2 separate regions of the Homo sapiens genome follow, and region 2 is linked to region 1. Evidence: fine-mapped expression QTL. A gene starts in region 1. The other region holds a variant in brackets. All regions are shown on one strand. Distances are from middle to middle. Region 1 holds the start of PWP1 (PWP1 homolog, endonuclein). Region 2 holds the start of LOC124903010 (a long non-coding RNA gene).

Evidence for each region. PIP is the estimated chance that this variant, and not a neighbour inherited with it, causes the effect.
Region 2: its variant is fine-mapped to the expression of PWP1 in whole blood (INTERVAL, PIP 0.91).

Annotation. Positions count from the first base shown.
Region 1 is chr12:107,682,484-107,690,822 of GRCh38, reverse strand. PWP1 (PWP1 homolog, endonuclein) reads right to left here and starts at 5,024. Exons shown (of 15, transcript NM_007062.3): 1 at 4,852-5,024; 2 at 2,317-2,375; 3 at 2,021-2,208. The coding sequence starts at 4,923. RefSeq lists enhancers at 4,686-4,735, 4,956-5,215 and a silencer at 7,645-7,902.
Region 2 is chr12:107,707,294-107,715,632 of GRCh38, reverse strand. PWP1 (PWP1 homolog, endonuclein) reads right to left here. Exons shown (of 15, transcript NM_007062.3): 12 at 6,617-6,707; 13 at 6,401-6,522; 14 at 5,123-5,228; 15 at 2,471-3,522. The coding sequence ends at 3,413. LOC124903010 (a long non-coding RNA gene) reads left to right here and starts at 231. Exons shown (of 2, transcript XR_007063446.1): 1 at 231-338; 2 at 3,203-3,251. The variant C/T (reference allele first, on the strand shown) is at 3,517.

The sequences.
Region 1 (8,339 bases):
AAGTGGAGAGGGCATCACGAACCTTGAATTACCTTGCTTTAACAGTTAACACTATTTCCTCAATGTCATTTTCGACTCTCCCTCTCCCCATTGCTGGAGTTTTTCAGGCCGAGGCAGGCGGATCATGAGGTCAGGAGATTGAGACCATCCCGGCCAACATGGTGAAACCCTGTCTCTACTAAAAACACGAAAATTAGCTGGGCGTGGTGGCATGTGCCTGTAATCCCAGCATTCGGGAGGCTAAGGCAGGAAAATTGCTTGAATTAGGGAGTCAGAGGCTGCAGTGAGCCGAGATTGCACTACAGCACTCTAGCCTGGGCAACAGAGCAAGACTCCGTCTCACACACACAAAAAAAAGTATATTATTTTACTCAGCATTTCAACGATATTCTAACAGATACTGATATTTTTAAGTGCCTGATTATAACTTTTTTAAACTTTTTTATTATTTAGACATGGTGTCTGTCATCCAGGATGGAATACAGTGTGATCATAGTTCACTGCAGCCTTGAACTCCTGGGCTTGAGCGATCCTGCTGCCTCAGCCTCCCAAGTAGCTGGGATTAGACATGAGCCACCACGCTCAGCTCTGCTATGTCTTATGTAATATTTTAACCATCAATTTAACAGGTAGTTGTGATTTTACTTTGTTGCAGATAACATTTGTATTAAGAGTTAATTTTTGTTTCCGATCATCTACATTTTGATTTTATAACTTGGGAGTAGCTGATTCTAGCTGTCAGGAGTCCCTTCAGCTCCCAAATATGCAGACTAACTGGGATTTACAAGTTAAGTAAATAACTTACTTAACCTGCTCAGTGTGCCAAATGCCTATTTCTCAAACCCCAAGATTAGGAGTTAGTGCCACCTAGGGTAGCACATTCCAAAAGAAACAAAGCGAGCTTTGTCAGCTCCTTTTCCATTTATCGTTATACCTACTTTCCCCAGAAGAGCAATATAGGTAGTTGTCATCTCAGCTCACTTTATTCCCCACGAGGCTTTCTATACAAACTTCTACTTCTAATCTGTCTTCTGTTCTATTTCCTTTTTCTCTTCCCACCCATGATTTTTTCTTTTTGAGATGGAGTCCCACTGTGTCACCCAGGCTGGAGTGCAGTGGCACGATCTTGGCTCACTGCAACCTCCGCCTCCCAGGTTCAAGTGATTCTCCTGCCTCAGCCTCCTGAGTAGCTGGGATTACAGATGTGCGCCACCACGCCTGGCTAAGTTTTGTATTTTTAGTAGAGACAGGGTTTCGCCATGTTGGCCCGGCTGGTCTCGAACTCCTGACCTCAAGTGATCCACCTGCCTCGGCCTCCCAAAGTGCTGGGATTACAGGCGTGAGTCACGTGCACCTGGCCTCTTTTTCTAATTATCTCCAAGAACAGCATCTCAAAATGCAGGCAGTAGTCCCCCCTTATCCACGGGGGATACATTCCAAGACCCTCAGTGGTGGTCTAAAACCACAGATAGTACCAAACCTTATATACATTATGTTTTTCCTATATGTACCTAGGAATCAAATAATGATAATATACTGTAATAAAAGTTATGTGAAAGTCATCTCTCCCAAAGTACTGTACTTTACTCACTTATTTTCAGACTGCAGTTGACTGTGGCTAACTGAAACCGAAGAAAGCAAAACCGTGGATAAGGGGGGACTACTGTATTGTGAGAAGACTGACTGCAGTTGAGGAAAAGGTATATGGATATAAGTTCAAGCACACCATAGCATTATAACTGCATACAAAAACTCACAAGTGGGTTACAGATTATTAAACCTGATATATGCAATAAAATACACAGTACTTTTTTTTTTAGATCCTAGATTTGTATCTTAGTGGGTTAGAGTTTATCTTCTAAACTAGTTTAGGAATCATGCTGTCTGCCCAAGTCTTCAACCAGATTATCTTACTGATGTCAAGAACAATAAAATCTAAGAGTAAAGCTTTGGAACACCACAAACATGATCCAACATATTGAGCTTGTAATTACAAACCATCAGAAGTGGATAAACTAACCTGGGTCACCTTCCTCATCATATTTATCTAAGTCGTACTCAGCCAGCTCATCATCATCAAGCGTCCTGTCATCCTCTGGGTCACCATCCTCCAGGGGCTCTCTTGGGCGTGCCTGGGTGCGTGCACTCTGCATGCCATCTTCTGAAGGACTGCCTGTCTCCTCTTCATCACTGCCACCACCTTCTTCTCTATGAGCACAGAAAGAAAAAGAGAATCACCCAAATGCTACCTTCTAATAACAAGACCACATGGTCATCATCATTTAAGATATAGATTTCATCTGGTCCTAAACTTACTGCAATTTCTCCTTTGCCTCAGCAATGAGGCGTTTTACTTCTTCTTTACTCAGCTCTACCTGTAAGAGAGCAAAGATTTCATTACAATATGTGTAAGGAAATCATCAAATTATTTGAATTAAAAAGTAGTTTGCAAACAAATGTAAAATGTAACGCCAAGCAATGTCATCAAGATAAGAATCAAACATCAATCCAGACTCTATATTAAAAAATATAGATTTTATAGATTCTTACAAATAAGATCTCTCGCTACCTGAAACTTCAAAAATCATGCTCATTCTACTCCACCTCTTAGTCTTAAAACTCCAAAGACTGGTTTTGGTAAAGTGGCTGTGTGGTACTCGTCTGGTTTTCTTCCAACCATCTCTGACTCTGTCTAGGGCACCTCTCCCTCTCTTCCCTGTGGGCATTCCTTAACAAATCACCCTTACATGAGTCCTCTGTTCTTTTTTTTTTTTTTTTTTTTTTTTTTTTTTGAGACGGAGTCTCGCTCTGTTGCCCAGGCTGAAGAGCAATGGCGCCATCTCGGCTCACTGCAACCTCCACCTCCCGGGTTCAAGCGATTCTCCTGCCTTAGCCTCTTGAGCAGCTGGGATTACAGGCACGCGCCACCACGCCCAGCTAATTTTTGTATTTTGGTAGAGACTGGGTTTCACCATGTTGGCCGGGCTGGTCTGGAACTCCTGACCTCAAATGATCCACCTGCCTCGGGCTCCCAAAGTGCTGGGATTACAGGCGTGAGCCACCGTGCCCGGCCTTAATTTTAATTTTTAAGAGATGTGGCATGGTCACAGCTCCCTGCAGCTGTGAACTCCTGGGCTCATGCGATCCTCCCACCTCAGCTTCCTGAATGACTAGGATTACAGGCACGAGCCACCGCAACTGGCTTGTCCAATTTCTCTCATTTGGTCCAAGTTTTCCTTTCTAGGATTTCATAAATTCAATCTCTTTTTCCTATAAACTCTTCAAATAGTGGTTCCCAGACTTATCTGTACATCAGAATCACCTAGGGAATCTTAAATAATTTAGGCTACACTACAGGCTAATTACAACACAATACTTGGGAGTGGGACATAAACATCAGTATTTTTTGAACCTCCCCAAGTGTGAGATTTTCAATGTGTAGATTCATTTGGAAATCAGTCTTCAAGTATTTGAAAGGCTATATGTCTCTTTTTAATAACTGTTTCCTCCAACAATTTTTATATGAAATAATTTTCTGTCCCTATTCTATAAATGTAACACCGAGTGCCTACCATCAACCAAACCCTGGAGAAACAGTAAATAAAACAGTCTGTGCCCAGGTGGAATTTACAACTACTGGGACTACTCCAATCCGTCATTCCTGTTAACTCCATGTCCAAGCCAATCACATTCCTATCACCATCATCATTATCTTGGTCAAGTACATTCAAATCAACCCCTTTTACTGTTTGGTAGAACTTAACTCCCACTGACATACTATATGTGCACATGTCGACTCCATAAAGGCAGGGTCTTTTTCTATTTTTTTTTTTTTTTTTTTTTTTTTTTTTTTGAGACGGAGTCTCACTCTGTTGCCCGCCCAGGCTGGAGTGCAGCTGTGCGATCTCGGCTCACTGCAAGCTCCGCCTCCCGGGTTCACGCCATTCTCCTGCCTCAGCCTCCCGAGTAGCTGGGACTACAGGCATCCACCACCACACCCGGCTAATTTTTTGTATTTTTAGTAGAGACGGGGTTTCACCGTGTTAGCCAGGATGCTCTCGATCTCCTGACCTCGTGATCCGCCCGCCTTGGCCTCCCAAAGTGCTGGGATTACAGGCGTGAGCCACCGCGCCCGGCGGGACTTTTTCTATTTTGTTCATGCCTATCCCAGGACCCTGAACAATGCCTGGCCTACAGAAAGCACTTAGTATCCAATGAGGAAATTACTTAAGTAATCGTCACCTCTGCTACAGTCTCAGTCTCCAACTCTTGTAGGTTTTTCATGTGTTAGACATTTACCTCTCATCCTCCCTGCTACCATCAACATCTCACTTGGATTACTGCAAGAAATTCCCTATTCATCTCCCAGCCTCACGACATCTTAGCCTCCACACCAGTTTTTCTACACCACATTCATCCTCACTCCTTCAGACACGGAGCACAAGAGTGGAAAGTGGAGTTTTCATGCTCTCTTCCCAGTTATGCTTGAAAATGCACTTGGGTGCTAGTGAAGCTAGTGGTGTTGTCAAAAAGCCTTTTGGGGTATTACCCACCAAAAACAGCAGCCCACCCCTTTCCGGCCCGCTAAGTCCATGTGCGTGCGAATTTGGGAGTGGGGTTGGGCTTGAGGGTGGGAACAGTGAGAAGGCGCGGCCCTTGACTCTCCAGGCTCAGGCGAACCAGACCTTCTGAACTGCAGCTCTAGTCGCGACAATCCGGGCAAAGCCGCCCTCACCCCAGCCAGTCGCACCAGCCAACGCCCCGAGTTCCGGGTCCACGTTCCCCCAGCTGGGCGGACCCCCAGTGCCGTAAAGACGCTGCTCCCCTTGTCTCCCAGCGACCAGGCCTCACCTTGTCTGGTGTCTCTTTGGCCACGCCGCAGCGGACCCAGGCCACGCACGTCACCTGGCGGCTGCGGTTCATGGTCCTCAAGTCAAGGGCGTGTCACGCTAGAAACCAGGCTGCATAGGGAGGGACCACGACCGCACTGCTGCCACACGCTCAGGGATCTGCACAGGGCCGCTGCCAGGGCAGAGCGCATGCGCAGGCTCCTGTTTGGGCAGCGTCGGCGCTCATTTCAGACGTCATTCTGAGGCGCCGAATGAGAAATAGGAGGGGACAAAATGGAAGCGGAAGCAGCCGGGCGAGGAATCCACGTGGGCTGGTCTGGGCTGTGTGAAGTATAGAGAAAAGGCTTTTCAGGACTGCATGTGACGATGCCTGCGGGCTTTGTAAAGGCCAAGAAAATATTTGGGACTGTAGGGGTCAGTCAGAAGCAAAGTTTCACCAATCTTTATTTTGCTTGCAGTTCCGTAGACTTCAAGCTGACAAATGGCAGAGGTTTGTGGTTTGCGTTTTTTAAAAAGCTTTCTCCAAAATGAATTTGTCGTTTCACGGAGATCCCACCATTACATCTCATTACATCCCTAAATGTTACTTTCTCACCTTAAAACATTTAGCACCAAAAAAAAAAGTGAGAAAAAAACATTTAGCACCAATTATATACTAACTATGCAGTAGTGATTTAGTCTTGGCAAACACAAAGGGCTTACTTATGTTGAAGGCGCTGTTTTGAGTGCCGTATCACGTGATTACTTACCCCTTTGTGGGAGGTCTTATTTCCGTTTTACACCTGGGAAAACAGCGATCCTTCCAAAGGTCACACTGCTAGTAAGCGGTGCAGCTGGGATATGAACCCGGGCAGTGTGACTCCCTTGTATCTATGTCATGCTTCTCAGCTAAGATCAGTCATCTGTTAGAACTCGTGAGTGGCTGGACGTTTGTAGAATGGAAAATCTCAAACTAGCATCCCAGAAAAATCTGGGTTTTGATCTCTTGGCTGTGTGGCCCTGTCCTGGTCATTTACCCTCAATGCATCTACCTCTGAGAGAGGCAAGCAAAAGAAACAGGAAGGTGGCTGCTATGGGGAAACAGTGGCAAGGATAAACTGGCAGTACACATGGTCTTTCCCAGTGGCATTGTCAAACGGGGGGTGTCCACCTGTGGGCTCTATTCGGGGACCTTTTTGCAACACATTTATCTTTCTATACAGTATTTTACTTGGTTCTCACAACACTTTGTTTTAAAGATGAAGCTAGAGTCCCCAGTAGTCAAATACTTTCCTACTCAGATCACACACAGAGGAGCTGATACAACTATGAGTTCTGTCACCAACTCTACTCAGCCTAATGCGCTTGGCAATCTCCCTGCCTGAGGAGAGATCCTCCCAGAAGTAAATTGCTCATTGTTTGTGTAGGCAGATTATTTGTCCATTAAGACTTCTCCCCCTGCTCTGTTTCTGTAAGATGATTCTTCTGTGGTTTCTTTGCTTTTAACCCATTTTAGAAAGACCATATGGCAGATAATATTTTTCAAGGATGGCTGCAACAATAGAGTCCTTCACACATGTTTGTCTGCAACGTGATCTTGATATTCCTCCATCAAAGCACCCCCCCCCGCCCCCACCAACTTGAATCTGGGTAGTTGTAGGTCTGCTTTGGCCAATAAAGTATGACAGAAATGATGTTTCCAAGGTTAAGTCATAAATAGGATGCAGGTTTTGCTTCCCCACCACCACACCCACTTCTCCACTTCCACACCCCCCACCCACTCCCCCACTGCCCACCAGTAGAACACTAATGTTTGGAGCCCTGAGCCACCATATAAAGTTTGGCTACTGTGGTAGTCTGTTCTCACACTGCTAATAAAGACATACCCAAGACATGATAATTTATAAAGAAAAAGAGGTTTAATGGACTCACAGTTTCAGTTGGCTGGGGAAGCCTCACAATCACTGCAGAAGGCAAAAGAGAAGAAAGGCATGTCTTACATGGCAGCAGGCAAGAAGAGAGCATGTGCAGGGGAACTCCCCTTTATAAAACTATCAGATCTCAGCTGGGTGCAGTGGCTCATGCCTGTAATCCCAGCACTTTGGGAGGCCGAGGCAGTTGGATTACAAGGTCAGGAGTTCTAGACAAGCCTGGCCAACGTAGTGAAACCCCGTCTCTACTAAAAATATAAAACTTAGCCGGGCATGGTGGTGCATACCTGTAGTCTCAGCTACTTGGGAGGCTGAGGCAGGAGAATCACCTGAACCCAGGAGGCGGAGGTTGCAGTAAGCCGAAATCGCACTGCTGCACTCCAGCCCGGGCAACAGATCAAGACTCTGTCTCAAAAAATAAAAATAAATAAAAATAAATTAATTAATTAATAAAACCATCAGATCTCATGAGACTTATTATCATGAGAAAAGCACAGGAAAACGCCGCCCGTATGATTCAATTACCTCTCACTGGGTCCCTCCTATAACACATGGGGATTATGACAATTCAAGGTGAGATTTGGGTAAGGACACAGATCCCAAACCATATCAGCTACCCTGAGTCCACTATGCTGTTAGGAAACCAAACCACATGGAGAGACCACATGTGGTACTCCAGTAGACAGTTGTAGTTTTTGAGTTAACCCAGACCTGTAAATGAAAGTGCCTTTAGGTGAATCCAGCTCCCAGACATTGATTCACTCCCAGCGTTTGAGCTTGCTCAGCTGAGACCCAGCCATCATGGAACAGAGACAAGACATCCCCACTGTGCCCTGCCCAAATTTCTGACCCCCAGAATTTGTGAGCTTAGTAAAAGATTGTTTCTAACCACTAACTTTAAAAGAAAAAATCCTTCCATAATTTTTATTATAGTAAAATATACATAACACAAAATTTGCCATTTTTAAAAAGAGACAGATTTAGGGTGGGCTCCGTGGCTCGGCCTAAATCCACTTTGCCCTCCTTTGAGAGGCCAGCACTTTGGGAGGCCAAGGCAGGAGGATCACTTGAGCCCAGGAGTTTGAGGCCGACCTGGAAAACAGCAAAATCTTGTCTCTACAAATAAAAAAATTAGCTGGGCATGGTGGTATGCACCTGTGGTCCCAGTGATGGCAGCAGCTGCTGCCATCATGCCAGCTACAGCAAGGAGGCACAGCTGGGGCTGCATGCTCCATGGAGCCAGTGGGAGCCCTGCCCCTTCTGAGTTGGGGCAGGAGCTCCCGGGGTACTGCTGCAGTCACCCAAACTGCAGCTGCAGACCCAGGCCTCCTGCTTTACAGAGCAGGCAGCAGCCACCCAAACTGCAGCTGTGGATCTGGGGCTCCCTGTGCTCTTGGTGGGAGTGGCGGGAGCAGGCAGGATCTGCCCTCCCAGGTGCAGCTGCAGCCGCCCGACCAGTGGCTGCAGACCTGGGCCTCCTGCTCCGCAGAGCAGGCAGGAGCTGGGGACAAGTGGGATCCCTGCCCCTCCCAAGTTGGCGGGGTGGGAACTCCCAGGGTGCAGCTGTGGCTGCCCTCTC
Region 2 (8,339 bases), 25 kb before region 1:
GTTCTCATTTAATTCTTTATAGATTCCAATTCCTTGATGATATATTCAATCTTGTTTTTTCTTACATTTACCAATCCTGCCTATTTCAAAGTTCATGTCCAACATAAGTCCAATGTGTGAATTTATTACAGGTCTATCTTTCTCATGGTGCTATTTCTTAGTATGCTTAGAAATCTTTGCTGGAATGCTAGAGATTGTGTATGAAAAACTATAGAAGCTGTGGATGAAATTATCCTCTTCCAGGGAGGATTCACCCTGTCCTCTGTCAAAGTAGAGCAGGGACACCTCAATCCAGTCAAAAACTGAGCTTACTCAAGGCTGGGCTTCAGATTCCTAAGGTTAGCTCTACTGGTTTATCTCAACTTTTGGGGTATAGCCTTTGAGGGGTCACAGTGGCAGAGCTTGGAGTGTTTTTAGAGACCTTCCTTTTTGAAATCAAGTTCAATTTTTGTTTTTGCTCTGCTGCTTTTCTCAGTTTTCTTACCTTGTACAACAAAAAATTGGTAAATGCCTAAGAAAATCAGCATCATCACATGGGGTTAATTCTCTGCACATCCCTTCTCCCAGGATCTTTGCCCTCAAGTCCTGGCTGCCTTAGAAGCACTTCAGTGCCTTCAAATAGATGTTGCATGCCTCCTGTTCAGCTTTTGCTTAAGCTATACTGTCACATCTAGAAATGGAAGTATGAAACAAGTTGTTTTTGAAACAAAATCTGGCTATTTGTTCTGACAGGATGTTTTAAAAGTACTTACTTTGAAAAGACCTCCCTTGGCTGGGCACGGTGGCTCATGCCTGTAATCCCAGCACTCTGGGAGGCGAGGCAGGCGATCACCTGAGGTCAGGAGTTTGAGACCAGCCTGGCCAACATGGTGAAGCCCCATCTCCACTAAAAATACAAAAATTAGCTGGGCATGGTGGCACATGCCTGTAATCCCAGCTACTCAGGAGGCTGAGACAGGAGAATCATTCGAACCCGGGAGGCGGAGGTTGCAGTGAGCCGAGACCATGCCATTGCACTCCAGCCTGGGCAACTCAACACTCAGTCTAAAAAAACAAAAACAAAAAACAAACAAAAACCTCCTCCACCTAAAAGAGTATGTAAGAGTATAGCATACATTTCATATACCACCTTTACTGAAAAGAGCTTCATAAGATGTAGTTTGGGTTGTCCTGAAAAATTGAGGCCTTTAAGTTCTACCTGTATAATGCTCATAGAATATAGTATCATAGAAGTTGATATTTCTACTTTATAAACAGTGGGTTTTGCAGAATCTGAATTCCCAGATATAATTAGCTGGCACCTGCCTACATCTGGGTAATTATTTTTTGAGACGGAGTTTCACTCCTGTTGCCCAGGCTGGAGTGCAATGGCATGGTCTTGGCTCACTGCAATCTCCGCCTCCCAGGTTCAACTGATCCTCCTGCGTCAGTCTCCCAAGTAGCTGGGATTAACAGGCACCCACCACCATGCCCAGCTAATTTTTGTATTTTTAGTTGAGGCGGGGTTTTACCATGTTGGCCAGGCTGGTCTTGGACTCCTGACCTCGGGTGACCTGCCCACCTTGGCCTCCCAAAGTGCTGGGATTACAGGCTTGAGCCACCGTGCCCAGCCATCTGGGTAAAATTGTTTAAAAGTTAGTATCGGGTTTTCACTTTGACAAATATGTTTGGCTCCATGGCATTTCCATGTGCTATGTAATGAAAACACCAGTCACCAACAAACTACCAGTGGTGAAAATGTTACCTGTCATTCCCCCACTTTCTATGGTAGACAGGCATTCTAAGCCACACATCTTTGGGCTCAGATCTACCCACACTTAGGTGCAAAATGTACCCACGGTGGGAAGTGATGTGGAACCCTTTCCTCAGTCAGTATGACACAATCGAGCCTCCTTTTACATTTATAATCTGGGCTTGGATTTTAATCCCCATCTTACCTAGTTCCCACAGCTTGACTACCCCTATTGCCTGTCTACTCAGATGTCTTACCCACTGCCTGCACTGTCTTTTAGCAGTAACTGCAGGTCCCGGCCAGCACTCTTCTGGTCCCAGGTGCTCAGATCTGCTCTAACCAGCTACTTCAGAGGCACATTCTTTTGGCTCAGAAAACACCCCATGCTTAGCATTCATCGCACTAGCACTTTCAAGTTGGAAACAGAGGTGTCAACCCATTTACCATTTGAAAATTTTGGTATTTATTAAATACAAATTCTTATTTTAGGCAGACCTATATGACTACATAAAGCAGTAGAAGTTATTTTTTATACGTAACTAGGTCTTTTCCTGAGAATGGAAAGTCCTGGGAAGATGCCTATTTTAGAGTTATTCTTTATAGAAGAAAACATCAAATTTCAGAGAGAATTAACTGACTTTAAATCTATTAGAGGTCTCCCTCTGTTACTAATTTTTAGTGATCTGGGCCTTATTTTAATACCTAAAAGCCAAATCAAAACAAAGAAACAGAATACTCTATCCTTTAATCTCTTTAATTCACACATCTGTCTTTTGTATAAAAAGGTGTTTTGGTGAACCCACGTTGCTACACCAATGACATTCCACAGTATTAACACTAGAATGACTGAAGTCACATTCATGAAATATACAGGAAATATCAATGGTTCATGAACTGATTACTCTTCTGGCAAGTTAGGGTTGGGTCTCATATTATCAAACTAATTACGATTTTTAATGCCTACTAAAACTCATACTTAATAGGAAGACAATCTATAATTAAAACTGTCCCTTGTTAGGTGGAGAGCAAAGACTTATTCACACTGAATCTCCCATGCCTTGTATAGCACTAGGCACAGAATGGCATTCAGTGTTTTGAGAATGAATGAATGGTCTGCCTCTTGTCTTTGATAACAGTGAATATCATGCTAGGAAAACAGGGGCATGTAACTTTTACTTATCAAACTCTACGAGTTGCACTGAGAATACTCAATCATGAGCATTAATTTGAGAACAGTTAGGAATGAAAGTGGAGTCTCTGGGGCACTTGCCTCTGTTCATGGCCTCCTGTGCAATTTTAGCCAAATAACAGCCTTTCCAGGCCTAGGTTTACCTATCTTTTAATATTACCGGATTTTACGCTTTAAAAATTCTATAAATTACTACCTATTTACAAATCTAGATTAACTGTGACAGATGGTATGTTTAAGGAATTACTTTTTAAAAATCCTTTTTATTACTCTTTTTTAAGAAATGCAACAAGAGCCTTACAAACCATCCATCTGAAGAGCAAGCACAAAGACCGGATATTTGTGGTGCCACCGCAGTTGCAGAAAGGAATGTCAGTCAGAAATGAATTGTGTTTCAGTCACTCTGCATGGTTGCTGCCACGCATGGAACATTTTTAGGCCAACTTTTTAAAATTCCCAGTTAAGGTAAGCAGGAAATTAGATGATCTTCATTAAGACTCCATGGGTGTATCTGAGCTCCTGCTGCCAAAAGGGCCACTAATAGATGAATTTCTTGCACTCCCAAGAACAAGCCTCTCTCGTCTTCCAAATGCTT[C/T]ATTTACTAAAATACAAATAAACAGGTAAGAAACTAACAGATCAGGAAATTAAGTCAGAATATAAAAAGACACTAAAATGCAGAATTGTGCACTTAGTACTTTATAAATGGTAAAGTGAGTAACCAACTCAGAAGTCCAAGTTAATGTTCTGAATGAAGTGAATTATTTTTTTAAATGGTCCAATTTATTTTTGTACTTTACTTTCTTTGCCATGTCTTGGATTTATCTGATCCGCCTTGGTAACAAATGTCCCATTCCTTATAAGTGACCCTCTCCTGGCCTTATTCTACTTCTGATTGCTTCCTATTTTTTTCTTTCACTTTTCTCTGATCATAACCGGCACAGAACTTTTCGGACTTAGGACTCACACACATCAGAATAACCCAGAGAAAAATCTCAGGATCCTTGTTTTGCATGGGAGGGAGGATGCAGGAATCATACAGTGGGGAGATATATATATTATCTCTGTGTTTGTAGAACGCACCAGACTACCTCAAAGTAATAAATAAGCAGCCAGGATCCCCTGAAGGGAGAGGAGTGGCCCCTTCCGGAAAGTTGGATTTTGTAGAATTTTATAGTTGAGCAAACGGTGGATTTATTCACACTGGTAACTGTGGGGGAGAGGGCTGTTTGTTGAGACCATGCTATATTTCTTTCCAGCTTTCCCCAAAGATCTTTCAATTTTAAGATATGTATTTGTTAAATTGCTGGGAACAAGCCCCCCAAAATCTGGCCATAAACAAAATCTCTTCAGCACCGTAACATGTTCATAATGGCCCTAACGCCCAAGCTGGAAGGTTGTGGGTTTACGAATGAGGGCAAGGAACGCCTGGCCTGCCCAAGGTGGAAAACTGCTTAAAGGCATTCTTAAGCCACAAACAATAGCATGAGCGATCTCGATCTGTGTCTTAAGGGCATGTTCCTGCTGCAGTTAACTAGCCTAACCCATTCCTTTAATCCGGCCTATCCCTCGTTTCCCATAAGGGATACTTTTAGTTAATTTAATACCTATAGAAACAATGCTAAAGACTAGTTTGGTGTTAATAAATATGTGGGTAAATCTCTGTTCGGGGCTGTCTGCTCTGAAGGCTGTGAGACCCCTGATTTCCCACTTCACATCTCTATATTTCTGTGTGTGTGTCTTTAATTCCTCTAGCGCCACTGGGTTAGGGTCTCCCCAACCGAGCTGGTCTCGGCCTTAAATGATCTACACTTAAAAGTGTGAAGACAAACTTATTTGTGAACATGAACAAACATTACCAATTACATCTGATCTTGTCTCTTTCCTAAAAAGACTACACTACTTTTGCTATCTTCCTGATGTAGTCAGGACACACATTCTGCACTTGGTCTTAGCCAAAATGCTGAGAAACAATTCAAGTCACACATTCTGTGTCAGTCCTTACAGAACTCATTCAGAAAGAGGAGAGGCCAGCATGATGGCTCACACCTGTAATCCCAGCTATACAGAAGGCTGAGGACCAAGGATTGCTTGAGGCCAGGAGTTTGAGACCAGCCTGGGCAACATGGTGAGACCCTGTCTTTTTTTTTTTTTTTTTTTTTACAGGGGCAGGGGGAGGTGTGCAGAGAACTAAAAATCCTTACCTGAAGAGACTGTGCTTATATCCCAGACCCGAAGCCCTTCTTTTTGACCTCCAAAGGCATAAATAAATGGCAAATCAGGGCAACATGAAGAACAGAAGAGAACTCCCTAGAGAGAGAACAGGAAGATGGTGATTTCAATCTCTTCAGAAAGCGCTAATATCTAGATCCTCACTGTTGTCTCTAAGAATCTATGATTTAAATGGTTATTCAAAACCAACTTATGATTCTCACTTTCAAGCCTACTGCAAAGGTAGCTCAGAGTCAAGTCAGAAGGGCTAGTACTACAATATGAAGCCAGACAAGCGCAGCATGCTGGTTCTTCCACAATGATATCTGCAACTTCTGACCACTCAGGCCACTCATCTTCGTTATCACTCTGTCTCTTAGGGATTTCCTAACAAACCTAATGTGCCATGTATTTCCAGAAACTTTAGCTGTCCTTTTAAACAATAACAATGATGCCAGTTTAAATCATTTTTAAACTTTGTTTTCTTTTTTACATTTTTATTAATAGGTAATATATATTTGTTATAGAAAATATGAACAAGAAAAATATATGAAAATCTCTCAGGGAGGTAACCACGGTTTATGTTCTGGGATATAATCTACTAGAGTTAAATGTAAGCATTTAGGCAATTATGCACTTAAAAATAAGCATGAGATGGTACTACAAAAATTGCTTCTGTAACCTGTTTTTCCATTATATTTATATATATTTATTCATACACAATTTTCAACAGCTGTGCAGTGTTACTGTGTCTGCAGTCTAACTTATATAACTCAGTGGTTGGCATACAGTAGGTGCTCAGTAAATATTTCTTGAGTGAATCTGGTTATTTCTAAATTTTTCCTACTATATAGTAATTTGTTTCAGTGTAGTCAGAACTAGTTATGCAAAGAGATAAAGATACATAAACTGACCCTAATAGCTACGGTGCCCTGAGGTTCAAGATTTCTTGGGATGGTCTTGATTTCAGGGTTTTAAAAAAAAAAAAAAAAAGCAGCCATTTCACTTGTGTCCTAGAAAACCCTCTCCCCAGCCTTACCAAGCAACTGTTAATCATGTGAGTTGGAAAAGAACCAGTCACTGAATTCCCCACAAAGCGTTCTAAGTCATAAAATCCCACCAAATTTGACTAAACTCAAAATTCACTTCCCCAACACATCCATATTTGTTAATGCAATAGTTCCAACAGAAAAACACGCAACACAAGTTCCAGAAAAAGACAAGGTCAGAAACAGAATAAATAAAAAACAGATACCCAGGGAGATTCTTACCATTTTCATGTCCCTAGAATGAACTAGACTTGGCCTATCTCCTAAGATGTCCCAGATCTTCACGTATTTGTCAGCTGAAGCAGTCACGAGACAGCCCTTGATTTGACTGCTAAGATCAAGACCTAAAGGAAGATAAGTTTAGACACTTTCGCTTTGAAATACAGATTTACTTCATCATAAGTTAAGAAAAATGAAAGAAGCATTACTCTTGCTCACCAGAGATTTCATCATTGTGTGCATTAAGTGTAAAAATTGGCTTATCTGAACGTGCATCCAAATTATATACAAAGCCGTCATCTGTACTGGCCTAGAAAGAGTAAAAGATGGGCAAGGTCATGCTACGTCACAAAATCTAACAATGGGTAAAAAGTCTAAGTCATAGTGAAAATCAGCTATATGACTTACTGGTGGAACTTATGAAAAATTAACATGGACAGAAATCATTTACTTTTGGACGACCTGAGTTTGCACTCACATGGGCTAATTCAGTTGACATGTCTACTGGATATGAGTATGAAGCTGTGGTGAATGGTCTGGAATGGGGCTAGAGCAGTAGAAGAAAAGAGGCCATAGTTACATCCACGTGAACACAGGCCTGGTGAGCATGGCTACTCAAGTTGCAGGCTGAGGAAGCATCCACAGAAGTGAGTCAGAGAGGGAAGAAGGGATAGGGAAGAGTGTCAAGGAACCAAGGCGTGACCAACAGTCAAATCGACCAGTGTGGCAGAGAAATTCAATCAGATAAGGAACTTAGGAATGAAAGGCAGATTAGAGTGCATTGTTACACTGTCAAGAAAGAAAGAAGAAATGAAGGAATTAAGAGACAGATACAGAGCCAAAAATGGGAGACAGAAACCTGAGCCTGTATACAGGCCAAGGGCAACAGCCAGTACAAGAAAAAAGGATAAAGAAAGGACGGCTGAGGCAGTCTGACTGCTAGGCCAGGGAAGAGAAGGCTTGGCTCTTCTTTTGAGATGAGAGGGAAGCAGGTGAACCATTTCATCTACTTTAACCTCTCACTTCCCTAAATATTTGGGATTCTAATATATATGACCATTTGTTAGCAAATAATCTCTGGAAGTTGCGTACCTGAAGAGTGAGAGCCGAAGTACAACACAACATTCAAGTACAACTGGAATGATCATTGTAAAAATAAGTCAGGCTTCAGGCTGCCTGGCTAGAACAGCATGCACCTCTACTAATCGTGCAGAATTGAGATTAAGTATCTCAGAATCATTACTTCATGAATCTTACTAAAATTGTCCACATCTTTTGAGAAAGCTGTTTTTAAAAAACTCTTTCCCCCCTAACTCATTTTATGAGGCCAGCATCACCCTGATACCAAAGCCCGGCAGAGACACAACGAAAAAACAGAATTTTAGACCAATATCCCTGAAGAACATCGATGCAAAAATCCTCAATAAAATACTGGCAAACCGAATCCAGCAGCACATCAAAAAGCTTATCCACCATGATCAAGTGGGCTTCATCCCTGGGATGCAAGGCTGGTTCAACATACATACACACATCAATAAACGTAATCCAGCATATAAACAGAACCAAAGACAAAAACCACATGATTATCTCAATAGATGCAGAAAAGGCCTTTGACAAAATTCAACAGCCCTTCATGCTAAAACTCTCAATAAATTCGGTATTGATGAGACATATCTCAAAATAATAAGAGCTATTTATGACAAACCCACAGCCAATATCATACTGAATGGGCAAAAACTGGAAGCACTCCCTTTGAAAACTGGCACAAGACAGGGATGCCCTCTCTCACCACTCCTATTCAACACAGTGTTGGAAGTTCTGGCCAGGGCAATCAGGCAGGAGAAAGAAATAAAGGGTATTCAATTAGGAAAAGAGGAAGTCAAATTGTCCCTGTTTGCAGATGACATGATTGTATATCTAGAAAACCCCATTGTCTCAGCCC